4 linked regions of the Homo sapiens genome follow. The protein of the gene in region 2 interacts with the protein of the main gene of each other region in a biochemical or structural test. Each region holds a gene or a part of one and is shown on either strand. Other genes may lie near its edges.

The links.
Region 1: the proteins of ESR1 (region 2) and SMARCE1 form a complex in vitro, tested with the Homo sapiens proteins (3 studies listed by BioGRID).
Region 3: the proteins of ESR1 (region 2) and AHR form a complex in vitro, tested with the Homo sapiens proteins (4 studies listed by BioGRID, with this or other methods).
Region 4: the proteins of ESR1 (region 2) and MED1 form a complex in vitro, tested with the Homo sapiens proteins (6 studies listed by BioGRID).

Annotation. Positions count from the first base shown.
Region 1 is NC_000017.11:40,624,431-40,630,818, forward strand, and holds the end of SMARCE1 (SWI/SNF-related matrix-associated actin-dependent regulator of chromatin subfamily E member 1), read right to left. Parts: coding exon 6,284-6,388; intron 4,564-6,283; coding exon 4,355-4,563; 3' UTR 532-4,354; downstream 1-531. UniProt on the Homo sapiens protein: Involved in transcriptional activation and repression of select genes by chromatin remodeling (alteration of DNA-nucleosome topology).
Region 2 is NC_000006.12:152,097,662-152,103,785, forward strand, and holds the end of ESR1 (estrogen receptor), read left to right. Parts: intron 1-1,070; coding exon 1,071-1,305; 3' UTR 1,306-5,613; downstream 5,614-6,124.
Region 3 is NC_000007.14:17,293,996-17,301,675, reverse strand, and holds the start of AHR (aryl hydrocarbon receptor), read right to left. Parts: upstream 3,025-7,680; 5' UTR 2,412-3,024; coding exon 2,347-2,411; intron 1-2,346. UniProt on the Homo sapiens protein: Ligand-activated transcription factor that enables cells to adapt to changing conditions by sensing compounds from the environment, diet, microbiome and cellular metabolism, and which plays important roles in development, immunity and cancer.
Region 4 is NC_000017.11:39,413,243-39,420,273, reverse strand, and holds part of MED1 (mediator of RNA polymerase II transcription subunit 1), read left to right. Parts: intron 1-355; coding exon 356-557; intron 558-4,934; coding exon 4,935-5,030; intron 5,031-5,142; coding exon 5,143-5,248; intron 5,249-7,031. UniProt on the Homo sapiens protein: Component of the Mediator complex, a coactivator involved in the regulated transcription of nearly all RNA polymerase II-dependent genes.

The sequences.
Region 1 (6,388 bases), on a different chromosome or scaffold from region 2:
CTTGGAAGGTGATGACATGTACTCTAATTGACTTCAAGTTGTGTAAGAGGGAGGCTGAAATTATAGGAAGACAGATTTTTAGTTCAGTGAGAGGAAATACCTTTAGTGAACTAAAGAAGGAATGAGCTATCTTAAGACATGATGGGCTCCCCAAGACTAGAAGTATTTATTTAAACAGAACCATGACGACCTTAGGGGACCTGGGACCAAGTGCTAGACGGGTGTGGAGGTGGCTGACCGAGGGTCCTTGCTGCCCCTTAAAGTCAAGGAGTTTAAGGCAGCCTTTCCTTTCTTTCAAGTGGCTCCTCAAAGGGAGCCATTATCTGCAGCTACTGTCTCAGTTTTATGTAAAGAGTATTTATCATTTGGGAATTTCCCCTCCCCATATAATACTTTTGACTCCTGAATGCATGCAAAAGAGCTGTAAGAAACTTTCTGGTGCTAAATGAGAAAATGTGTGAACATAAATGAGCTAGTTTAACTAAAAGTTCACCAAAATGTATTTTAAACATCAGGCTCTTAAAAACTCAATAGTTTGAAATTTGCATTTTAATCAGCGTTTGGCTAACAATATGAGATAAACTATTAGAGAAGTGTAGGTCATTCTGGCAAATAGAAAGTTCCATCATTTCACACTTAGAAAGCTGCCACGAAGAGCTTATTCTTGGAGTATAAAATGCAGAATTTAGGTTAAGCCAGTCATTTTGTAGATGAAATTGTACACTGGCAATTTCTTATGGTTCAACCTAATAGTAAAACATTTATAAACAATTGTATCATTACAAATACATTTAGACATCGTTTTCTGCTAAACTCAGTATTTTCCTTTCCATCCTGATCAAAGAAACATTATTGCAGTAAGCCACATTATAATTCAGCACGATTTCTTCTAAAAAGGCTCCGAGTTCCTTTGAGCTTGTTATTGTACAGTGGATTTTTCATTTGCAAAGACGTTAAGCCCTCCAAATGTGCAAATCATGAAGTCAGTTGTTGTTCCAGCAAGGTTTGCCCAGCGGTAAAAAACAAGATAAAACTAATGCACTAGCTGAAACCAGGTGGGGAGACCATGTGTGGTAGTGCTTGGGGGTGGAGGGAAACTATTTCTGAAATGAGGACTTAAAGTATAATACCAGCTTCACTGCCTGTTCACGAGAAACCAAAGCTTCAATTTAACTGCAGGCAATAGGAGTTTCACACTGTCAGCACCAACTGTCTAAAATCCAAAACTAGTATCTAAATGTGTAGGATCAAAACCAAAAATCTGGAGGGATCTAGTTAAACTTCAATATGCATGACCCCAGATTCCCCTTTAAAATATAGTCCAAGTATTTTATCTTTTCCATAGGGCATTGACATTATTGTGTTAATGTGAAATAGCTATTTACCTCTCCAAACCTCGGCTTTATAGAATAGATAATTATCACATCCTGTAGGAGAGCCATTTGAAAAGACAGCCTTGTTTACAGACAGGAGAAGTTACAGAATTTAAAACTGTTAGAAAATTGGGGGACTATGGGGCTGGGCGCGGTGGCTCACGCCTGTAATCCCAGCACTTTGGGAGGCAGAGGAGGGTGGATCAGGAGGTCAAGAGTTCGAGACCAGGCTGGCAAACATGGCAAAATCCTGTCTCTACTAAAAATACAAAAATTAGCCGGGCGTGGTGGCGGGCGCCTGTAATCCCAGCTACTCAGGAGGCTGAGGCAGGAGAATTGCTGAAACCCAGGAGCTGGATGTTGCAGTGAGCCGAGATGGCGCCATTACACTCCAGCCTGGGCAACAGTCAGACTGTCTCAAAAAAAAAGGAAAATTGGGTGACTATCGAGGATTCCCCTCTCCCATTTGTTAAAAAAAATTAACAAAATTTAGGCCCTCAGACTTTATGCATTCATACTCAAAATAAATGCACTAAAAATCAAGGAGCAGTAAGGGCACCAAGAAAGAGCAGTTTGATCTATTTTATAATTAAAACAGGCTCGAGTTCAAGCTACTTGCCCAGCACCTTTTGGGACATGGGAAAAAAACAAAGACCTCTACCATATCCCACATTCTCTAAACTGAGAACCATCTCAAACATCAAGTCTACATATATCACTCTGACCAAGTGGATTTTTACATCAATCTTCCCCTGCTGAGGTTCAGAGCTGTCAAATCCCAACTGAGGCCGGGCACAGTGGCTCACGCCTGTAATCCCAGCACTTTGGGAGACTGAGGCAGGCGGATCACCTGAGGTCACGAGTTCAAGATCAGCCTGGCTAACATGGTGAAACCCCATCTCTACTAAAAAATACAAAAATTAACCGGGCATGGTGGCGAGAGCCTGTAATCCCAGCTGCTCTAGAGGCTGAGGCAGAGAGAATTGCTTGAACCTGGGAGGTGGAGGTTGCAGTGAGCTGAGATCGCCACCACTGCACTCCAACCTGGGCGACAGATTGAGACGTCTCCCATCTGACTTAATTCCCTCATCAACTGATTGCCAGTGTTGTATGGACAGGCTTGGTCTGGATAGACTTGTCTTCCCACTGCTATTTCCAGCCGGGCAAAAGAACCACTTCCATTCTCTTAGAGCTTTCGATACCACAGTAAATAACCTGGTATCTTGCTGGGGCAGTTTTCCACCCATATTAAACTACATCTGCCCCATTTTGACTACTAGAAAATGTATCAAAGAGGCTGTCCAATTTGTCTGAGATGAGATGGCTGAAGTTCTTAGCCAAATAATGGCCAAAGCTCAAAACAGATCTATTTGATACAAATTCGTTCTTTGACACACAAGGAAACAGATGTCAAGAGTTGTTTCCACCCAGTATCAAGCTTCCTCCCCTCCTCTCTCAGGAGGCTGAACACACATTCCTAGTCACTAATGTGCTATGAACTGAATAGCAGTGAATCCACTTAAATTAACTCATGCTGGTACAGAGTCCTCTCCATATAGGCACAGGACTTAACATTTATCATTTAGCCATTCTTTCAAAGATAATTCAAACGTTACAGATTTCTCCATATTCCTGTTAATGTAGAAACATATTCCCTTTACTTTTGGAATCAAAGACCAACTTCCATATGTGACAATGACTATAATGTAAGAAAACTGATTTTCACAAGTGTCTTGTACAAATAAGCTACTGCAGCAGTTTATAGAGATAGTTGGGTGAGACAAGGGCCCTGAGTACACAAATTTATAATGGCTGAGTGGTCATTCCACACTGTCACTGCATTACAGAAAAAAACTGGATGCTTGTCTTGCATACAAATATGTAGTGCATTAAAAACACTGAGACCTTTTTTTCATTTTTTTTTTTATTACATTTGGACCTTTAAGAAACATATACCATCAGATATACCACTATTCAGTAAAAATCTATTCTAGTTTTTGGGAAGCTTATGTGTCACAAACTATCTTGCTTCTAGTCTCCAAGACTTTACTAAGTTTATCAAAAAGGTGGGCTCTGGTCTATGGGATCCTGAGCCTTGAGGTTTGGATGTTCTGATTATTGTAAAACAATTTCAAGTGGATTAACTTAATTCCCAGCTGTTTTTCTTCTGGAATGGGCTAATCAGTTTGAATTATCTAGTCCATTACAAGAATATTAAATTCCTTGAGCTTTGTGATCTATTCTGTCTTTGGAAAACCTGGTAAAAAAGTAATTTTTTTTCTATACAATAAGGATGGATTTACCAGAACATACCCAGTATTAATCATAACAAAAAGCAGTATAGATAATGTATATGTGCTGTGTTCACTTTAATAACCACTTCATAAGTAACTACTCTAACTATGGGGACTATTTCTGGATCAGTAAGATCCAAGTGTAGTTAGTTACACACTACACTCAGCTTAACACAACTCTTGGTATCTGACATTGATTAAAAGTAAAAAAGGGTAAGTGAACAAATACATACTCATACATGATCACGTTTTTAAGAAGCTACCCTTTGCAGAAGTAAACAAGAGAGGAGACTTTCAGGAAGCTACTGATGGGGACTGGGAAGGTTTAAAGCTATGGCTTTGGTAAGCACCCCAGTGAGCTGTAGGAAGGCATTGTAAGAGTAGATTCTGCAGCATCAAAGGATAATTCTCTAAAAGAGGTGGGTGTTTTCTCAATTAATCTAAATTCTGAGGCTTTCAGCAGTTGAGGGCTAGAAACAAGATCCAAAGAAAAGAGCCATCTTCACAACACTTAAGAAAGGTGACTGACTGAGCCATTAGGCTCATGATGCTAAATGGTCCAAAAGCCTTTGGTGGTGTGATATGGACAAGAAAAAAAATTAATACACAAACCACGTAACACCATTAAAACCAAAAAACATTTTTTCATTAAAAAAAGTATTTAGAACACACAAAACAAGGCAACACTTATTCTTTTTTCTCATCTTCTGGTATGGGATCTGTTGGTGGCTCCTCCACTGTTGCACTGTTGCTCTCCGAGCCAGTGTTACTATCACTGGTTCCTTCCTCTGCCATACTGTCGACCCCCTCCTGCCCACTCTCCTTGTCCTCAGGAGTAGACGTGCCTTCTTCACCATTCTGTTGGCTCTCTGTTGTTTCTTCAAGGTGTGTCTCCTCTGTAATCACACATTTGTCACTGTCAGTTCCAAGATGAAATTTTACTCTAGTTATGCTGACAGTATACAGCTGTGCTGTCCAATATAGAAGCCACTAGCCACATGTGGTTATTAAACCCCTGAAATGAACCAGTGTGACTAAAGAACTTTTAAGAATGTTGGAACAATTTGGGTATGAAAATCTACTTTTTAGCTGTAAATGAATGAAATTTATTAAATAAATGCAGATCAAATACTTCCGATGAAAATTTAGCTTCTGAATTGAGATGTGTATAAAGACTGTTTAAAAAAAGGAAAGCTGATTTTAAAAATGTTCCTTCTGTGTTGAAATAATTTTATTTAGGATATGTTGAATTAAATAAAACATATTGTTAAAACACTTGTTTTGCTTAACTTTTAAAAATATGTCACTAGTAGAAAATATAAAATTTCACGTGACTTGCATTTTATTTCTGTTGGACAGTGAATGAGAGTTAGTCTGTAGTGCTATGGATTAAACGAGGAGAAAGCAGTTGTAGAAATAATATAAGGTTGGTCTTTTAGACACTTTGTTTAAAGTCATGCTGGGCTGTTTCCTGTAAGAAATTAAAAGCATGAGGTTTTAGCTCTAATAGTCTCAAACGATTTTCTTCAGGTTTTTTCCTTGAACTAGGACAGAATCTGAGTAAAGACCTGCAAACCTTAAGCATAAGACATGCCCCATTCATAGATGCCAAAACAGAGGCAAAGGACTGAGTGTTTGTCTAGTTGCAAAATTAGCAAAAATCAGTTATTTTAATTTTCAAGCTCGTTTTAACCACAAAAATGTGCTCATGCTCCAAATTCATTACAATAAAAAACACATTCATACAAAACAGAAAGAGACTCAGATACTGAAACTTAAAATATGACCATTTCAAATGTTAATCTGCTGGATTAAATTTTGCAGAAATACCTGGTAAAGATATCTATATTCCATTACATGTTTTCCAGATGGTTGTCATCTGAGTACCAAGTATGACTACTGTCCCTCCCACTTCTTGCAACGATGCTCCAGGAAGCCTTTGGTTTTGTTTTCCATAACTACTTTTAGCTTAGTCCTGTTTACACAGTGTACTAGGCAGTGTTAAAACAGTGCCATGAGGTAAGGTGATCTCAAAATTACAAGTGACGATCAATGTAATCAGTACTTTATGTAAGTTTTATTTATACAAGTTATTATTATTATTTTTTACCTTGAGGGATGCTTTTAATCAGGAAAATCAGTATACCTAGAAGTAAGGGTTTTTCTAGGACAGAGCTGGCAATTTTTTTCTGTAAAGAGCCAGATAGAAAATATTTTAGACTTCGCAGGCCAGGCAGTTGTTGTTGCAACTACTCAACTATACTGTTTTATCCCCAAAGCAGCCACAGACAGTATGTAAACAAACAAGTGTGGCTGTGTTCCAGTTTTATTTACAAAAACAAGTGGTGGGCAGGATTGGCTTACAGGTATTACTTTGCAGAATGCTGTCCTAGGACACCAAAGACAATTAATCTTAACGGTAATAACCACATCTTGATAAATAATGTAAGCATTTAAAGGTTAAAATACTGAATGTCAATATCATGTCAAATTTAGTACTGGGAATCACCCTCAGTGGCAGGTACCAGAATACTTGCACTTAGAAAGAAAAACCTAAATTAAAGACAGCCGTACAAAGTCTTGGCACTGCCTCTGCGTTTGTTGCTAGTGGGTTACCTGTCTCCATCGGAATGTTCTCGTCGTCTTTCTTCTCCTCGCCTTTGTTAGCTGCTTGTTCTTCCTCAGGAACGATGCTGCTCTGACTGCGCTCAGCTTGCTCTG
Region 2 (6,124 bases):
TAGTGGAGGAGAGCAGAGGAGGAGAGTAGGGAAAGGAGAATGCCATTTGCCTACATTTCCCTCTGCCCATTTCCCGCTGCCCATTTCCCCCCTTGTTTTCCTGAACGTGAACTGAGCTCTGGGCACTGTTTTAGGCCTAGCAGGGGACAGGATAAAGCCTGCTTCTCTAGGAATTCGCACTGAGGGTGTGAGTGTGTGCACGTGTGTGTTTGGAGGCGGGAGAATAAACACAAATAAATAAAAAGGAGAATTTCAGGCAGTGATAAGAGTGCTGAGAAAAACAGAACGGTGTGAAAGAGGAAGGCTGAGCCTGCAGAGGCTTGAGGCTGCTGCCACTGGGTAGCGGTAGGCCTTTCCGAGGAGGCGGCATTTGAAGACCGGAGGAAGGTTCATCCCAGCAAGTAGGAACAGCAAGTGTAGGTCCCCTAAGTCTTGGGGGAGCTTAGTTCCTTTAAGGGCAGCACAAAAATCAGTGTGGCTCCGGAGAGCACATTAGGGGAGAGAGGCAGGAAGAGCTTGGAGACATGGATGGAAGCTGGACCAGTTGGGCCTTGTTGAACATGGAAAGGCATTTAGATCGTATTCTGAGTTAAATGGGAAGTGACGTGAGAGATTTAACAATGGAGCGTCTTGAACTGCTTTACTCATTTAAAATACCCACTCCTGCTTGGCTGAATATCTCATGTTGTCTTTTTAGAAGCTTTGGCGATCCTATTTGAATGCATTTAGGTCCTATTGGAGGGGAATAGGATCTCATTTGAGGCCACGGAGGTCCATGGAAGTCACCTGCATAGCAAATACCCTGAAAGTGGCTGCAGGGAGAGTGTGAGGGTGGGACCGCCCTGGTAGGAGGTGGAAAATGAAAAACACACGGCCATGAGTTCCAGATTAGGGCTTCTGAAAGCCCTCAGCTTTCCCAGCTCCCATCCTAAAGTGGGTCTTTAAACAGGAAGAAAGAAAGATTGCTAAGTGTCTTTGGAGTTCCTCTTCCTTCCCCTTCTAGGGATTTCAGCACTCCTGGGGCTCGGGTTGGCTCTAAAGTAGTCCTTTCTGTGTCTTCCCACCTACAGTAACAAAGGCATGGAGCATCTGTACAGCATGAAGTGCAAGAACGTGGTGCCCCTCTATGACCTGCTGCTGGAGATGCTGGACGCCCACCGCCTACATGCGCCCACTAGCCGTGGAGGGGCATCCGTGGAGGAGACGGACCAAAGCCACTTGGCCACTGCGGGCTCTACTTCATCGCATTCCTTGCAAAAGTATTACATCACGGGGGAGGCAGAGGGTTTCCCTGCCACGGTCTGAGAGCTCCCTGGCTCCCACACGGTTCAGATAATCCCTGCTGCATTTTACCCTCATCATGCACCACTTTAGCCAAATTCTGTCTCCTGCATACACTCCGGCATGCATCCAACACCAATGGCTTTCTAGATGAGTGGCCATTCATTTGCTTGCTCAGTTCTTAGTGGCACATCTTCTGTCTTCTGTTGGGAACAGCCAAAGGGATTCCAAGGCTAAATCTTTGTAACAGCTCTCTTTCCCCCTTGCTATGTTACTAAGCGTGAGGATTCCCGTAGCTCTTCACAGCTGAACTCAGTCTATGGGTTGGGGCTCAGATAACTCTGTGCATTTAAGCTACTTGTAGAGACCCAGGCCTGGAGAGTAGACATTTTGCCTCTGATAAGCACTTTTTAAATGGCTCTAAGAATAAGCCACAGCAAAGAATTTAAAGTGGCTCCTTTAATTGGTGACTTGGAGAAAGCTAGGTCAAGGGTTTATTATAGCACCCTCTTGTATTCCTATGGCAATGCATCCTTTTATGAAAGTGGTACACCTTAAAGCTTTTATATGACTGTAGCAGAGTATCTGGTGATTGTCAATTCATTCCCCCTATAGGAATACAAGGGGCACACAGGGAAGGCAGATCCCCTAGTTGGCAAGACTATTTTAACTTGATACACTGCAGATTCAGATGTGCTGAAAGCTCTGCCTCTGGCTTTCCGGTCATGGGTTCCAGTTAATTCATGCCTCCCATGGACCTATGGAGAGCAGCAAGTTGATCTTAGTTAAGTCTCCCTATATGAGGGATAAGTTCCTGATTTTTGTTTTTATTTTTGTGTTACAAAAGAAAGCCCTCCCTCCCTGAACTTGCAGTAAGGTCAGCTTCAGGACCTGTTCCAGTGGGCACTGTACTTGGATCTTCCCGGCGTGTGTGTGCCTTACACAGGGGTGAACTGTTCACTGTGGTGATGCATGATGAGGGTAAATGGTAGTTGAAAGGAGCAGGGGCCCTGGTGTTGCATTTAGCCCTGGGGCATGGAGCTGAACAGTACTTGTGCAGGATTGTTGTGGCTACTAGAGAACAAGAGGGAAAGTAGGGCAGAAACTGGATACAGTTCTGAGGCACAGCCAGACTTGCTCAGGGTGGCCCTGCCACAGGCTGCAGCTACCTAGGAACATTCCTTGCAGACCCCGCATTGCCCTTTGGGGGTGCCCTGGGATCCCTGGGGTAGTCCAGCTCTTCTTCATTTCCCAGCGTGGCCCTGGTTGGAAGAAGCAGCTGTCACAGCTGCTGTAGACAGCTGTGTTCCTACAATTGGCCCAGCACCCTGGGGCACGGGAGAAGGGTGGGGACCGTTGCTGTCACTACTCAGGCTGACTGGGGCCTGGTCAGATTACGTATGCCCTTGGTGGTTTAGAGATAATCCAAAATCAGGGTTTGGTTTGGGGAAGAAAATCCTCCCCCTTCCTCCCCCGCCCCGTTCCCTACCGCCTCCACTCCTGCCAGCTCATTTCCTTCAATTTCCTTTGACCTATAGGCTAAAAAAGAAAGGCTCATTCCAGCCACAGGGCAGCCTTCCCTGGGCCTTTGCTTCTCTAGCACAATTATGGGTTACTTCCTTTTTCTTAACAAAAAAGAATGTTTGATTTCCTCTGGGTGACCTTATTGTCTGTAATTGAAACCCTATTGAGAGGTGATGTCTGTGTTAGCCAATGACCCAGGTGAGCTGCTCGGGCTTCTCTTGGTATGTCTTGTTTGGAAAAGTGGATTTCATTCATTTCTGATTGTCCAGTTAAGTGATCACCAAAGGACTGAGAATCTGGGAGGGCAAAAAAAAAAAAAAAGTTTTTATGTGCACTTAAATTTGGGGACAATTTTATGTATCTGTGTTAAGGATATGTTTAAGAACATAATTCTTTTGTTGCTGTTTGTTTAAGAAGCACCTTAGTTTGTTTAAGAAGCACCTTATATAGTATAATATATATTTTTTTGAAATTACATTGCTTGTTTATCAGACAATTGAATGTAGTAATTCTGTTCTGGATTTAATTTGACTGGGTTAACATGCAAAAACCAAGGAAAAATATTTAGTTTTTTTTTTTTTTTTTGTATACTTTTCAAGCTACCTTGTCATGTATACAGTCATTTATGCCTAAAGCCTGGTGATTATTCATTTAAATGAAGATCACATTTCATATCAACTTTTGTATCCACAGTAGACAAAATAGCACTAATCCAGATGCCTATTGTTGGATACTGAATGACAGACAATCTTATGTAGCAAAGATTATGCCTGAAAAGGAAAATTATTCAGGGCAGCTAATTTTGCTTTTACCAAAATATCAGTAGTAATATTTTTGGACAGTAGCTAATGGGTCAGTGGGTTCTTTTTAATGTTTATACTTAGATTTTCTTTTAAAAAAATTAAAATAAAACAAAAAAAAATTTCTAGGACTAGACGATGTAATACCAGCTAAAGCCAAACAATTATACAGTGGAAGGTTTTACATTATTCATCCAATGTGTTTCTATTCATGTTAAGATACTACTACATTTGAAGTGGGCAGAGAACATCAGATGATTGAAATGTTCGCCCAGGGGTCTCCAGCAACTTTGGAAATCTCTTTGTATTTTTACTTGAAGTGCCACTAATGGACAGCAGATATTTTCTGGCTGATGTTGGTATTGGGTGTAGGAACATGATTTAAAAAAAAACTCTTGCCTCTGCTTTCCCCCACTCTGAGGCAAGTTAAAATGTAAAAGATGTGATTTATCTGGGGGGCTCAGGTATGGTGGGGAAGTGGATTCAGGAATCTGGGGAATGGCAAATATATTAAGAAGAGTATTGAAAGTATTTGGAGGAAAATGGTTAATTCTGGGTGTGCACCAGGGTTCAGTAGAGTCCACTTCTGCCCTGGAGACCACAAATCAACTAGCTCCATTTACAGCCATTTCTAAAATGGCAGCTTCAGTTCTAGAGAAGAAAGAACAACATCAGCAGTAAAGTCCATGGAATAGCTAGTGGTCTGTGTTTCTTTTCGCCATTGCCTAGCTTGCCGTAATGATTCTATAATGCCATCATGCAGCAATTATGAGAGGCTAGGTCATCCAAAGAGAAGACCCTATCAATGTAGGTTGCAAAATCTAACCCCTAAGGAAGTGCAGTCTTTGATTTGATTTCCCTAGTAACCTTGCAGATATGTTTAACCAAGCCATAGCCCATGCCTTTTGAGGGCTGAACAAATAAGGGACTTACTGATAATTTACTTTTGATCACATTAAGGTGTTCTCACCTTGAAATCTTATACACTGAAATGGCCATTGATTTAGGCCACTGGCTTAGAGTACTCCTTCCCCTGCATGACACTGATTACAAATACTTTCCTATTCATACTTTCCAATTATGAGATGGACTGTGGGTACTGGGAGTGATCACTAACACCATAGTAATGTCTAATATTCACAGGCAGATCTGCTTGGGGAAGCTAGTTATGTGAAAGGCAAATAGAGTCATACAGTAGCTCAAAAGGCAACCATAATTCTCTTTGGTGCAGGTCTTGGGAGCGTGATCTAGATTACACTGCACCATTCCCAAGTTAATCCCCTGAAAACTTACTCTCAACTGGAGCAAATGAACTTTGGTCCCAAATATCCATCTTTTCAGTAGCGTTAATTATGCTCTGTTTCCAACTGCATTTCCTTTCCAATTGAATTAAAGTGTGGCCTCGTTTTTAGTCATTTAAAATTGTTTTCTAAGTAATTGCTGCCTCTATTATGGCACTTCAATTTTGCACTGTCTTTTGAGATTCAAGAAAAATTTCTATTCTTTTTTTTGCATCCAATTGTGCCTGAACTTTTAAAATATGTAAATGCTGCCATGTTCCAAACCCATCGTCAGTGTGTGTGTTTAGAGCTGTGCACCCTAGAAACAACATATTGTCCCATGAGCAGGTGCCTGAGACACAGACCCCTTTGCATTCACAGAGAGGTCATTGGTTATAGAGACTTGAATTAATAAGTGACATTATGCCAGTTTCTGTTCTCTCACAGGTGATAAACAATGCTTTTTGTGCACTACATACTCTTCAGTGTAGAGCTCTTGTTTTATGGGAAAAGGCTCAAATGCCAAATTGTGTTTGATGGATTAATATGCCCTTTTGCCGATGCATACTATTACTGATGTGACTCGGTTTTGTCGCAGCTTTGCTTTGTTTAATGAAACACACTTGTAAACCTCTTTTGCACTTTGAAAAAGAATCCAGCGGGATGCTCGAGCACCTGTAAACAATTTTCTCAACCTATTTGATGTTCAAATAAAGAATTAAACTAAAGACAACGAGTTTGTTTTTTGTAAGCTCCACTTCTTGCTAGCAGTTCACCACTGATCCTCTAAAATCAAAGTGGTTAAACGATCTGTCACACACAGTGAGTCTGAATGCTAAAGCCTCTCCTCACCTCACTCCCTCTGCCCAACACCCCCAGGTGTATCAGGAAGTGTGTGGACACTGTGGTCAGGCAGAACTGGCCTCAATTCTTGGCTTCACCACTTACAAATTTTATGATCATTGGCAGTTGATTTTTCAGAGTTTCGGCTTCCTTATCAACAATATGATGATAAGTAATAACACCTAATTCACACGATGGTGGTGAGGACTAACTGAGGTGCTCATTAAACATAGTTGCTGTTTTTTAATGCCTGGCCCAAATCCTTCCCTGTGAGGGAGAAGAAGGATGCTTGAGAGTGGTTATTTATGAATGAATGAGTGAATGGAAGAATGAGTGATCTGAAATGATATAATTAGCTTAAAAACCTCTCCCTCATTCTGAAGGTAAAGCAGGAAC
Region 3 (7,680 bases), on a different chromosome or scaffold from region 2:
GGGGTTGATTTTTCTTAATAAATTCAACTCAAGATTGAAAGAGCTTCAGGTTACAATTGTCACCTACTTTACTCCAAAATTTTATGGAATACTTATATTCCATAAAATTTATATTTAATTGGCTGTCTTTTTAAACAGTCCTATAATAATGCTACAGCATATTTTATCTGTAAATAAAATAAAATGGCTCTCATTTAAGAGGTCAAAGTTAAGTAGGTCTGGATAGCATTTTCAGCTCAAAACAAGATCTATTTTCCCCAATGTTGGCATGTTTTGGGGCTCATTAGGCCACAAACTGGTAGTTTAATTTTAAAACTCAAATTTAATACTAGGTTTAATGACTTCATTTCTAAAATAAACTTTGATTAACTGCATTATAAAGTTAACAATTTTTCATTCAGGTAAAAATAATTTATATAAACACTTTCACTTGATAATGAAAATGCCAGCACTAGCCTATTCTTACAGAGCAAGCTGGTAATATTTAAGGCATCTGTATGATTAGAAGCAATATACGGTGCTCAGCAGAGATCTGATAAACATCTATGCTAACAAAATGTGGGTGAATGGAAAAAATACTTTTGTTATATTATAAGAAATTAATACAAGTATATTAAAAACTAAGTAAGTATAATATTAGGATAATCTAATAAAAAGTACATTTTACGCAAAATAACCAAAATCCATAAATGTTAAACTGTGTAATGAATACAAAATTATGGCATTTGTTTTTGTTTACAAAGCCATCCAGGTCCTTTGATAACACCCTAACTGAAACCCAGTATCTTAAAAACACATCAGGGAGATCTTCATGTTTTCTCACCATACACATAAAACCCATGACACCCCTATTATATATGATGCTAAGTGTATTATTATATTAATAAACACATAGAACAGACATTTGGGATGCCTCCCAACTTTAACCATCAATGACAATGTCAAATAAGACAAACATACTTTAATATAAGAAACCATTCTACAAAATTAAAAGTATTAATAACCGATGTCTCAAACTGCCAAGGTAGAAAACTGCTGGTTTGACAATATTCCCTTAAGACACACTGTACCATAAAACTTCCAAATTTTCATCAGTCTATTTATAGATTATTATCCTCTGTTAATGCCAATTCATAAGTATACTTCTGAAGAACTATGATAACTGAAATTCTGAAAGGAAACTAAAATTTTAGAATGAAACTTTAAACCAATAACTGGTTTTAAATGTAAATCTTAAAGTGTTATTTTTCTGGTTCCCATTAGTGATAGTTGGAGTCTAAGCAAAATGCACACTTCTGATTTGGTCTGAGAAGACGTTTAAGAGTTCTTAAAATTGTTTACGAAAACTTGAAACACATGTAGGTAAAGTAACTCAGAGATCTAGAAATAAAAAAATTGGAATAAACACATGAATACAACCACCTCACAACAGGAAATGTTTTGAGCACGGATAGTTTTTTCTGACACACACAAAAAATTGGCCATCTCACACAAATATTCCACCAAAATCAACCGACAACGACAAAAGCAAGTTTGTACTCACTCAACTAGAAGAAAACTTTGAAGGGGAAAAGAATTAGAGGTAGATGTTAAGAATGAAAACCTCTCTCAAATGCAGTTCTAAATCTTTTATTTTACAGACCCTAAAGCCACCCCAAAAGTGATAAGCAAGCTTCCGAAAAAGATGTCTGAAGAATACAAATCCTCCACCGTATCCTGTCCGTTGCATCCACTCCCACCTGCTACCACTTCTATCCACTTTACCGATATGGTCACGATGAGCGCTACAAAATTGCTGCCAAATAAGTAAATATGAGCGCAACACAAAGCCAGTTGGTGGGGACCAAAAAGTACCTTTAGAGGCACTCAGCCCCTTCGTAAAAGTCAGCATGTGTTTAGCTCTTTAAAACATCTCGCCTTACCAAACTCTACGAAGAATGAGAATTAAGACCGTCCTCTAACCTAACCCATGCGGATATGAAAAGTGGAAGGAGATTTCAAGACAGGTTTATACTAACTAATCCATTAGCCCAAGGCAGATCAGAGCTGTCAACAAATCAGGACCAAATCAGAAAGAACAAAGTTGCAAATGTGAGAGGGTGTGTATGCACTGGTGCGGGGGAAGAGGATGGGTGGGAGGACAATTTTTAAAATGCAATCATTGAAAACGGGAGAATCCAAGTCCTCTGTCTCCCAGCCGGCCTCCAAACCTCGATTCCACGGGCAGTGCCGGGAATGGACCTAATCCCAGGATCGCAGGGATTTGGGGGCGGGGTGGGGCTGCCTCCCGCACCCGCGTGCCTGAGCGCCCAGCCCCCGCGATGAGGACGCGCTCGGGACACTCACGTTTTCTGCACCGGCTTCCGCCGCTTGCGACTGGCGTAGGTGATGTTGGCGCTGCTGCTGTTCATGGTGCCCAGCCGACGGCGGCGGCTACTCCCCGGGCACTGGCGGCCGGGTCCCCGGAACCCGGTGTAGGCTGGGACCACTGCGGCGGCCGGCGCCGGGTTCCGCGAAGCCGCGCCCGCTCCACCTGCGTCCTCTCGGGACAGTGGCGTGGGCGCCGCGCCTCAACGCCTCGGCTCACGCAGGCTTCCGCAGCCCGCGCCAGTACAGGTGAGCTGCCTGGGCCTGGCGCAGTGAGGGTGGGCGAGGGGCGGAGACCCGCGAGCAAGGCGGCGCAGGTGCCGTCTACACCGGCGGAGGCGGCGCGGCAATGCCCGCAGGTGAGGCGGCCCGGGCGGAGGAGGAGCCTGGGCCGTCTATTTAGAATCCTGGCCTGGGTCGCTCACGGTGGCGCCGCGCCCCGTGACCGTCGCCGCGGCCCCTTGGGTGAGGGAGGTGCCGCCGCGCTGCTCCCGGGACTTCCTAAATCCAGGGTGCTTCCCGCCTGCGGAGCTCGGGCGCGGGCCACCAGTCCCGGCTGCTCCCAGCTTCCGTTCGGCTACACGGCTGCCCCTGTTCTGAGCTGGCGGTCCGGGGCACGCTCTCGGAACAGAGCGTCGACGGGACTCCCCAGCCACTGCCTCCCGCCGCCGCGCGCACCGGCTGAATAGCAGGAGCACCCCCGACCCCTCACCGGCCCCGCCCCGCCCAGATCCCGCGTAGCCCCGCCCCGTCCTGCTTGCCCCCGCCCATCTGGATTCCATTCCGTCTTCCTTGAGGGCCCCACCCTCATCCCGGCACGTGATGACGTAGGACGTAAGGACGCCCCCCCCCGCCGGTAGCCATCTTCGTGCATAGGCAAACTTATTGTAGCTAGACTGTACAAAGTATATCAAGATATGCCAAATATTGAGCTTAACTTCACCTGTTTGAGAGACGGTGGGTCAGCTAACTTGTGGCTAAGAATTACAATTAACTGGTAGACAACTGGTAGACAACCAATGGGACTGTATATTTTCCTAGTTGGGAAGGCTTCAGAAGGCCAGATTTGAGTTGAGACTTGAAGGCTAGGAGTTTCCTTGACCTTTTTTGGTGTGCGGGGGAAGTCTTTACAATAGACAGGAATATAGATAATAAGGGGACTATTATGTATTGTGTCATGGAGGACCATGTGGAAAAATATTGGGAGTAATTAACAATATTGAATACTGTTGAGAAATTCAAATTAGTTGAGAACTGAAAATGTCATTCTTGTTTTCTCAATGTGTAGTCACTGATGACTTTCGTGAATGCAGTGTTGGGGTAATGGGCCTGCAAATAACATTGAAGTGGGTACAGGATTGAGCTGAAGATAACAAAATGGCATCCTCAAGCAGGCAATTTTTCTTCCAAGTTTAGCTGTGGATGAGAGACACATCAGATTGTATGTAGGGGGAGTGAAGGGTTAAATGAGGGTTTTCTAGTTTTGGTTTAGTTCTTTAATGGGCGATACTGAGCGGCTTAGAGGGGGTAGAGATAAACTATGTAGGGAACCTGAGGGAAGAGTGAAGGAATGATAGATATTAAGATACCGAAAGCAGGAGGGAATGAGTGCCAAAGCATAAATGGGAGATTAGGACTAATAGATTAGATACTAACAGAAACAGCACTTACAGTGCTTTGCTATTCAGAGTACTCCACAGCTTCTTTTGAGAGTTACAGGAAATGCAGACTCTTTGGGTGTCCTTATTAAATCAGAACCCGAAGTTCACAGGAACTCCCAGGTGATTCAAATGTACATAAAGTTGGAGGAGCAGTTCTCTACCATAGCTGGAGGAAAGAAGGACAGTGGGTGAGATATAGTAGGCTACTAAATTTTGGATCAGAAAAATGAAGGAGATGTAACAAAGAGGGTATTCTAGCATGAGCTACAAAAGAACAATTGTGTTTTGTGGTCGATGATCTTTGTTTTAATTTTAGAAGAGCATAAAGTGAAAGTGATCTGGGAAGTGACAACAAGGAAGTAGATGGACATCCACCCTGTATCCTGTGATAAGAGAAAATAATTAGGCAGTATTGGGGAGACCTTTAGGAAAGTGATAGCCTCAGTAAGCCACCTTTCAGTTTAAGGAAAAAGATGGAGCAAATTCCCAAAGAAGACAGTGTACACTGGGAAAGTTTGATGTTTATGAATTAGCAATTGCAGAGGCAGAATCAACCATCTCTATTTTTCCCTTCTCTTTCATTTCTTCATTTATCTGTGCTTACTTATAGCCATTCTATCTAAAACGTGTAAGTGTAAAAGAATAATTTCCTCCTAGCTAGGAACTTTAAGGGTGAAAAATTTATATCAAAACATAATTTATTGATTCTGTAGCTTATAACTCCTCTTCATAAAAGAGATGTACTAAATGCAATGAACCAATCTTAATTTAGTGATTTAAAAAAATCCTACCCTTTTTAAGGTTGTTGGCTATTTGGTGCAGTCATTTTCTACCTTATTTTGACTTTCATACCCTTATTTTTTTATGGTTAAGTTTAGGATTATTTTCATTATCCAGAAGTCATATGCTATATTATGTTACATAGTCTTAGTTAAGTAACAGATCTTTGCATAATTAAGATTAAAATTGAATATCAACAAAATTCCCAGAATTCATTTTATTTTAATAGTGACATGAACTTACCTTAACAGTTTTGCTGGCATGTGAATACAGTATAGTGTAGTGCCATTTTTAAAAAATGAGCTGCCATTATCTAGAAACTTCCTGTATTGGCACTGTGGAACATGGTTCTCAAAGTATGGTTTGTGTCCATCTGCTAAGATTTAAAAACTTTTTTGTGAGCAGTTTTTTTTTTTGTAGTTACGTGATTTTTATCTCATAATAATTAATTTGGCTATAAGAGTCGGTGAACATTTGATTACCTTATCCAAAGAACATCCTTTTAATCAATTGGGTTGAGCTTAGTTTCTGAGGTTTCAGATGCAGCTGTATGTGTATGGGTTTCTTTCTCCTGCGAAATAGTATGAGAAAAATGTTTTAGGAATGCTATTATAAATATCAGCTGTTCTTGAATAAAGGAAAATAATCAAAATGAATGCTAAACCTATTCTATCACAGTTCATTTCACTAAGCAAGATTTTAGCCCCTATAATATACCAGACACTGTGGGTTACAGTAGTGATATCAGACATGTTCTTTCCTCTTAGAGCTTACATTCTAATGAGAGAGACAAGAATTAACCAGATAGTTACACAAATGAATGTATAATTACAACTGGGACAAGTACTGTGAAATGAATACTGTGAGAATGTATAATAGGTGGATTTAACTTGGTAAGGGTAACTTGGTAACCTCCCTGAGGGAGCTTGAGCTGAGTTTTGAGGCATAGGTAGGCATTTTATAGGTAGGCATAGGTAGGCATTTTATAGGTGACCTGGGGAGGAAGGGGAATTTCATGCAGACTGAACATGTATCACTTTTTAATCTCCTCTTCAATTCTGCAGCTCCTTACTTCAGGCCCTCAGAATTGTCTTTTACAGTTTACAACACACATTGTAGCTATATGAAGTATTTTACAGAGGGTAGTCCATGCTTCCTAAACTATGTACTGAGGCACCCCAGGAGCACCACAACAAACTCACAGGGGCACTATCATGGGATATTTTAAATTTTCAAGGCCAACACAGTGACATCAGTTGGACACCGTGCAAACCACTATCTTGAGGTAGTTCAGAACTTCTACACATTAAATTGTACTTCATTCCTTTTGACATCGTATCTTTGTGAGGCTGTGTTTTTGTAAATTGCTGTAATAAAACACAAGGACTATGGGAAAATTACTGTAGAACAGGAATGAGGGTAGCGGTTTCCAAGTTTATTCCTAAGTTTGAGAAGTTATGAAGTGCCCAACAGATGTGCACATCCCATTAAGAATAAAAAATGTTAATGTATATTATTTTTTAAATAGCTACTAAGTTGTTAGGATAGACAAACATAAGTTTGGGTTTAACTGTTTAATAAATGGAACTGTTAGGTGTTTCTTTTAGCTTGCAACACCATGAAAAAATTACTGAGACACTAGGAATGCTGTGAACTGAGAAAGTTTGGGACCTTTGGCATAACTAAATCCTTCATTTAACAGGTGAGAAACTTCAGGCCCAGAGAGATCAAGTGCCCTGCTAATCATAGCCTAGAATCTGGGTCTTGTGACTTCTGCCCCAGTCTAAAATGTATAACTTATCTGACTTTGAACTGTTCTGATTCATTTATTAAAAATAATCAGTTTACACATTGCTTGCTTTTACTCCTAACACTGAAGAACAGACATAGACATCTAAGGGCTGTTTCTAAATGCTTAATGTCTTCTTTACTTGCTTGGATACAACAATGTCATAGAAGCCACAGAGAAGTAATTAATAGATAATGCTAATCTTAATTCTGACAAAGAAACTACAAGATAGGAATAATTTGTTATTAGTCAAAATTATTTTTATTCACTTATGGATAATGCTTTGTTGCAAGAAACATTTAGGTTTTTAACACATGAAAGTACATTATTAAAATGTTAACATGCAGTAAGTTTGGATTTCGATTTCTTTCTTTCCGGACTTTTAATTCTTACGAATTTGAAGTTTGATTATGGGGAAAGTTATAAAAAAGTTTTATGTTTCACATGCTAAGATTCATGTCTAATTTATTAAACATTTTATTAAAATATATATGTATAAATATCATTTTTACTAAAATCCATTTAACTTTGGAGATAAATATATTTGAAAACTACATAATACATACTTTCTGCATTTTAAATCATGATATAGAAGAAACTGAAATTAAGATAAAATACATTTATTTAACAAAGAAAATTATTAACTTGATAAGAACAGCTTAAGGAAATGTAAATTATTGTAAAATGCTGACCTAAAATATATAATTTAGATTTGCTAAACTTTAAAAGGCTATCATTCTTATTCATATTAAGAAACAAAATGTATTCTTTACTGAAAATATTTAACAAATTTAATTAATGTGTGGACAGTGGTTCTCAACATTTGTTGCATATTGTAGTCACTTGAGAACTGTAAAAATTACGGATCCTTGGCTCCACTACAAAAATTTTTATTTAATTTATCTATGTTGTGTCCTGGAATCGGGATTTTACAGGTGATAGAGGTATTGTGGTTATATACCTCTATCACCTGTAGAGGTATATACCTCTAGAATAAAGAGAAGATCCTTATTCTCAGGAAATGCATGCTGCAACATTCATATATATATATGTATATATATATATATATATATACACACATAT
Region 4 (7,031 bases), on a different chromosome or scaffold from region 2:
GAGCCGAGATCGCACCACTGCACTCCAGCCTGGGCAACAGAGGGAGACTCTGTCTCAAAAAAAAAAAAAAAAAAAAGAGATTTTGCATTTATGGTTTAGGAACCTCTTTAATACAGATTTCTGAGGTAGTTTTTATGTTAGCTAGGTTAGGAAATCACTAGCATAGTGCATTTACTAAAAAGACATCTTTTCAGCCTAATTAGTAATTGATTGACATTTATAATATCAGCTGATGAAAACATTCACTGTGGAGACTTTTCTGCACTTTTTTGAGTAGTAGGTTTTTTCAGGATACTTTGTGGTTGGAATACAATAGGTAACTAAATAGCACTCGTTAACTGTTCTTTTTGCCCAGGCTCTTCCTGGTCAGCAGCACTGCTATTTCCTCAACAAGGATGCTCCTCTTCCAGATGGCCGAAGTCTACAGGGAACCCTTGTTAGCAAAATCACCTTTCAGCACCCTGGCCGAGTTCCTCTTATCCTAAATCTGATCAGACACCAAGTGGCCTATAACACCCTCATTGGAAGCTGTGTCAAAAGAACTATTCTGAAAGAAGGTACTGCCTTTCCTTTGATATGCTTACTGGAAGATGGAAACTTACTTCTCCAGTGGTTCTTTAATTGGTGGCCCATCAGAATCACCTGTAGAACTTAAAAAAAGTTTTTTTTTTTTCATATTTGGCATAAAAATCAAGCAAATTAGCTGCACGTGGTGGTGCACGACTGTAGTCCCACCTACTTGGGAGGCTGAGGAAGGAGAATCGCTTGAACCCGGGAGGCGGGGGTTGCAGTGAGCTTAGATCATGCCATTGCACTCCAGCCTGGGTGACAGAGCAAGACTCTGTCTCAAAAAAAAAAAAAAATTCAAACATGTGGAGCTTTTAACACTACAGATGATGGCCAGGTGTGGTGGCTCACGCCTGTAATCCCAGCACTTTGGGAGGCCAAGGTGGGCAAATCACTTGAGCCCATGATTTGAGATCGGTCTGAGGAACATGGCAAAACCCCATCTCTAGAAAAAAGTAGCCAGTTGTGGTGGTGTGCGCCTGTGGTCCCAGCTACTCGGGATCCTGAGGCAGGAGGATTGTCGCTTGAGCCTGGGAGGCAGAGATTGCAGTGAGCTCAGATTGCACCACTGCACTCCAACCTGGGTAACACAGTAAGACCCTGAATCAAAAACAAAACACCAGGCTGAGTGCAGTGGTTTGTGCCTGTAATCCCAGCACTTTGGGAGGCCGAGGTGGGCAGATCACAAGGTCAAGAGATTGAGACCATCCTGGCCAACTAGTGAAACCCAGTCTCTACTAAAAATACAAAAATTAGCTGGGTGTGGTGGTATACACCTGTAGTCCCAGCTACTTGGGAGTCTTAGGCAGGAGAATCACTTGAACCCAGGAGGCGGAGGTTGCACTGAGCTTAGATCATGCCACTGTACTCCAGTGTGGGTGACAGAATGAGACTCCCTCTCAAAAAAAAAAAAAAAATCACAGATGCTGTGTTTCCACACGAAGATGAACTGAATGATAATCTCAGTGGGAAGAGTTGGGAATCTAAACTCCACAAATCATTTTGATGGAACCAGTCTGTAGACTAGCATTTGGAGACCACTGCTTTTTGCAATGTTCTTAACTCTTTTTCTGAACATAGTAATGTAACTGGGTATTTTAGGGGCTGTACCCTGTAGCAGATATACATAAGGTAGAACTTGGAATGCTGTAGTGAGAGAGGCTTTTTTTTTTTTGAGACAGGGTCTCACTCTGTTGCCCAGACTGAACCACAGTGGCATGATAACAGCTTTCTGCTGCCTCTACCTCCTTGGCTCAAGCGATCCTCCTGCCTTAGCCTCCCAAGTAGGTGGGGCTATAGGCATGTACCACCAAGCCTGGCTAATTTTTTCTGTAGAGACAGGGTCTCTCTATGTTGCCCATGTTCGTCTGTAACTCCTGGGCTGAAGCGATCCTCTTGACTAGGCCTCCCAAGGTGCTGGGATAATAGGTGCCACCGTGCTTGGCCAGTTTTAGGTTAAATTTTAGGTTGTTAGGAGAGTGCTTCCCAGGTTTAGTTCTGAGTATGTTTTCTCTCCCCATTGTTTGGAGAACTTAATCTTACAGCTTTAAGAAGGTTTAGCTCTTTTTTCTCTCAGGATTCTGGAATGCTGATGAATTTTTTTTTTTTTTTTTTTTTTTTTGAGACGGAGTCTCACTCTGTTCCCCAGGCTGGAGTGCAGTGGCATGATCTTGGCCCACTGCAACCTCCGCCTCCCAGGTTCAAGCGATTCTCCTGCGTCAGCCTCTGGCTAATTGTTTAAATTTTTTTTAGTAGAGATGGGGTTTCACCATCATGGCCAGGCTGGTCTCGAACTCCTGACCTCGTGATCCACCCTCCTAGGCCTCCCAAAGTGCTGGGATTACAGGCGTGAGCCATGGCACCCGGCGTAAATGCTGATGATTTTCAAAGACAGTTGGCTATTAGAAGCTTTGCTGTAAATTTTGGCTGTTCTAGCTAACCATAGTTAATTTTAAAAATCTTAAGTCAGAAGCGCTCTGTTGATAGATATGTGTCAGTGCCAGTGATAGACAATAAGAAATAGGGAAGGCAAATCAGATCTCTTTTATTTTTATTTATTTATTTTTTGTTTGTTTTTTGAGACGGAGTCTCGCTCTGTCGCCCAGGCTGGAGTGCAGTGGCGCAATTTCGGCTCACTGCAAGCTCTGCCTCCTGAGTTCACGTCATTCTCCTGCCTCAGCCTCCCGAGTAGCTGGGACTACAGGCACCCGCCATCACGCCCGGCTAATTTTTTTGTATTTTTAGTAGAAACGGGGTGTCACCGTGTTGGCCAGGATGGTCTCGATCTCCTGACCTCGTGATCTGCCCGCCTGAGCCTCCCAGAGTGCTGGGATTACAGGCATGAGCCACCACGCCTGGCCTTTTTGTTTTTTTTTTTGAGACGGAGTCTTGCTTGGTCACCCAGGCTGGAGTGCAGTGGTGTGATCTTCACTCACTGCAACCTTTGCCTCCTGGGTTCAAGCAATTCTCTTGCTTCAGCCTCCCAAGTAGCTCGGATTACAAGTATCCACCACCATGCCAGGCTAATCTTTGTAGTTTTACCAGAGACGGGGTTTCGTCGAGTTGGCCAGGCTGGTTTTGAACTCGTGACCTCAGTGGTCTGCCTGCCTCGGCCTCCCAAAGTGCTGGGATTACATGCGTGAGCCACCATGCCTGGACTTTTTTTTCTTGATACAGGGTCTTGCTCTGTTATCGAGATTGGAAAGCAGTGGTACAGTCATAGTTCACTTTGGCCTCAAACTCCTGGGCTCAAGTGATACTCTTCCCTCAGGCTCCTCAAGTCGCTGGACTATAGGCATGCACCTCTACATCTAGTCAAATTTTAAAGAAATTTATATTATACTTTTTATTTCAGTGTACATATTTATACAGCAACATTTTTTTTGTAGAGATGGTGTCTTGCCATGTTGTATAGGATAGTCTTGAGCTCCTGGCCTCAGGCATTCCTCCCACCTCAGTGTCCCAAAGTGTTGGGATTACAGGCATGAGCCACTGTGCTGGGCCAGGAGATTCTTCTCATGGAAATAAAAATTGCTTTAGAAATGAGAAATTTTTAGTAGTTGGAGTAATAACATAGAGCATATATGTTCAAAGTTGTGGCACTTCTGTTTCATGTGTTAAAATGCCTTAAGAAGTCTCCAGATAGCTTTAGGGCATTTAAAAATGAGTTTTCATAAGGCAGTTATGGAGCTAATCCTATAGAGAGGCATGCTTTTTACAAAGAAAGTATATGATCCTTGTGTCTAGGCTGCTAGCACATCTGGCATAAGAACATATGATGATGGCTAGATATATGTGGAATAAATACATTATTTTAGATTATAGCCTCTATATCTCTGCTTGCCAAACTATGGGCTGCACATCTAACAGCTGCAAACACTTGATAGAAAGCAGAGTTTATGGCAGTGGTTCTGGATATCTGCTTATCAAGTAGAATGAGACACTCGGCCACTTTTATTTTCAGAATTCACTTTTACATTTTAGGGATTAAGTTTCTTCATCTTGGAAAATTGAAAGTCTAGCTACTTTTGTTCTGGAGAAATTTATAACAAACTGGCAGGTTCCTTGGAATCTGATTCCTTCTGTCATCTGTGGATGACATATAGTAGGTTTTGTATGTGAAAAAAGTGTGCGATTTAGTTTCCAAGGAGGGAGAGAGAATTTCAGTCTGTACATTTAAGGAATGTTATTTGTGTGAAGTCTTTTTTTTTTTTTTTTGAGACAGAGTGTTGCTCTGTTTCCCAGGCTGGGGTTCAGTGACATGATCTCGGCTCACTGCAACCCTTGCCTCCCAGGTTGAAACGATTCTCCTGTCTCAGCCCTCTGAGTAGCTAGGATTACAGGTGTGCGCCACCACACCCGGCTAATTTTTTTTTTTTTTTTTTTTTTTTTTGAGATGGAGTCTTACTCTTGCCCAGGCTGGAGTGCAGTGGCACGATCTCAGCTCACTACAACCTCCGCCTCCTAGGTTCAAGTGATTCTCCTGCCTCAGCCTCCCGAGTAGCTGGGATTACAGGCATGTGCCACCACGCCCGACTAATTTTGTATTTTGTATTTTTAGTAGAGATGGGGTTTGTCCATGTTGGTCAGGCTTGTCTCGAACTCCTGACCTCAGGTGATGAGCCCACCTCAGCCTCTCAAAGTTCTGGGATTACAGGCCTGAGCCACTGCATCCGGCCTCTTTTTTTTATTTTTTAGTGGAGTTGGGGTTTCGCCATGTTGGCCAGGCTGGTCTTGAACTCCTGACCTCAGGTAATCCACCTGCCTTGGCCTCCCAAACTGCTGGGATTACAGGCGTGAGCCACCGTGCCCAGCCTGTGTGAAGTCTTATATTTGGTTGTTTTATGATCTTTCTCTTTGCCTTTTAGATTCTCCTGGGCTTCTCCAATTTGAAGTGTGTCCTCTCTCAGAGTCTCGTTTCAGCGTATCTTTTCAGCACCCTGTGAATGACTCCCTGGTGTGTGGTGAGTTGTGTGGGTGGCTAACACCTCTCATGGAGCGGTTTGGTCCCTATGTCTTTTTTGGAAAAGTCAGAAGCTAAATCTAAAACAATTTCCTATGTATTTTGTCTTTCAGTGGTAATGGATGTGCAGGACTCAACACATGTGAGCTGTAAACTCTACAAAGGGCTGTCGGATGCACTGATCTGCACAGATGACTTCATTGCCAAAGTTGTTCAAAGGTAGCCTTGGCCCTTTTTCATCTGAGTCCCATTTAGAGATGTATAAAGAATGTTGTTGAGTAGGGCGCGGTGGCTCACGCCTGTAATCCCCACACTTTGGGAGGCCGAGGCAGGCGGATCACGAGGTCAGAAGATTGAGACCATTCTGGCTAACATGGTGAACCCCCATCTCTACTAAAAATACAAAAATTAGTCAGGCGCGATGGCGGGCACATGTAGTACCAGCTACTCGGGAGGCTGATGCAGAAGAATAACTTGAACCTGGGAGGTGGAGGTTGCAGTGAGCCAAGATTGCGCCATTGCACTCCAGCCTGACGACAGAGCAAGACTCCGTGTTTTTGTTTTTGTTGTAAAAAAAAAAAAAAAAAAAAAAAAAAAAAAAAAAAAAAAAGGCCGGGCCTGGTGGCTCACGCCTGTAATCCCAGCACTTTGGGAGGTGAAGGCGGGTGGATCACGAGGTCAGGAGATTGAGACCATCCTGGCTAACACAGTGAAACCCCGTCTCTATTAAAAATACAAAAAATTAGCCCGGCATGGTGGCGGGCGCCTGTAGTCCCAGCTACTAGGGAGGCTGAGGCAGGAGAATGGCATGATCCCGGGAGGTGGAGCTTGCAGTGAGCCGAGATCATGCCACTGTACTCCAGCCTGGGCAACAGAGTGAGACTCTGTCTCAAAAAAAAAAAAAAATGTTGTTTTCAGAATTAGCATGAATTTCAAATAAAGGAGCAATTTAGTTATTGCTTTGATTTCACCCTTCTCTGCTTTCGGATTCAAAGTAATCTAAGCTTTGTTTTTTTTTTTTGAGATGGAGTCTTGCTCTGATGCCCAGATTGTACAGTGGTACAATCTTGGCTCACTGCAACCTCTGCCTCCCGGGTTCAAGTGATTCTCCTGCCTCACCCTCCTGAGTAGCTAGGATTACAGGCATGTGCTACCACACCTGACTCATTTTTGTATTTTTAGTAGAGACGGGGTTTCACCATGTTGGCCAGGCTGGTCTCGAACTCCTGACCTCAGGTGATCTGCCTGCCTTGGCCTCCCAAAGTTCTGGGATTACAGGCGTGAGCCACTGCACACAGCCAGCTTTGTTTTTTTTTTTTTTTTTTTTTTTTTAATGATATTACTATGAGAGTAATGGGAAGTAAAGTAGGTAACTTCAGGCCTGGAATTATGGTACTTTAAGGCAGGAGAAAGCCATAATAAAATACAGATATTTTTCTTACCTATCCTGTGTGCCAATTCTTCATAGATGTGACATTTTTATCTTTTTATTCTTTTATTTTTTTATTTTGAGACAAGAGTCTCACTCTGTTACCCAGGCTGGAGTGCAGTGGTGTGATGACGGCTCACTGAAGTGTTGACCTCCGAGGTTCAGGTTATCCTTCCACCTAGACCTCCTGAGTAGCTGGTACTGCAGGTGTGAGCCACTGTGTCTGCCTGAGCAGATTTCACAACTTAAATGTTAGGCTGGGCGTGGCAGTGCATGCCTGTAATCCAGCACTTTGGGAGGCCAAGGCGGGCAGATTACTTGAGGTCAGGAGTTCGAGACCAGCCTGGCCAACATGTTGAGATGTCATCTCTATAAAAATACGAAAATTAACCGAGCATGGTGGTATCCGTCTGTCATTCTAGCTACTTGAGAGGCTGAGGCAGGAGAATCACTTGAACCTGGGAATCGGAGGTTGCGGTGAGCCAAGATTGCGCCACTGTTCTTTAGCCTGGGTGATAGAGTGAGATTCTGTCTCAAAACAAACAAACTAACTAAATAAATAAAAATATAAAA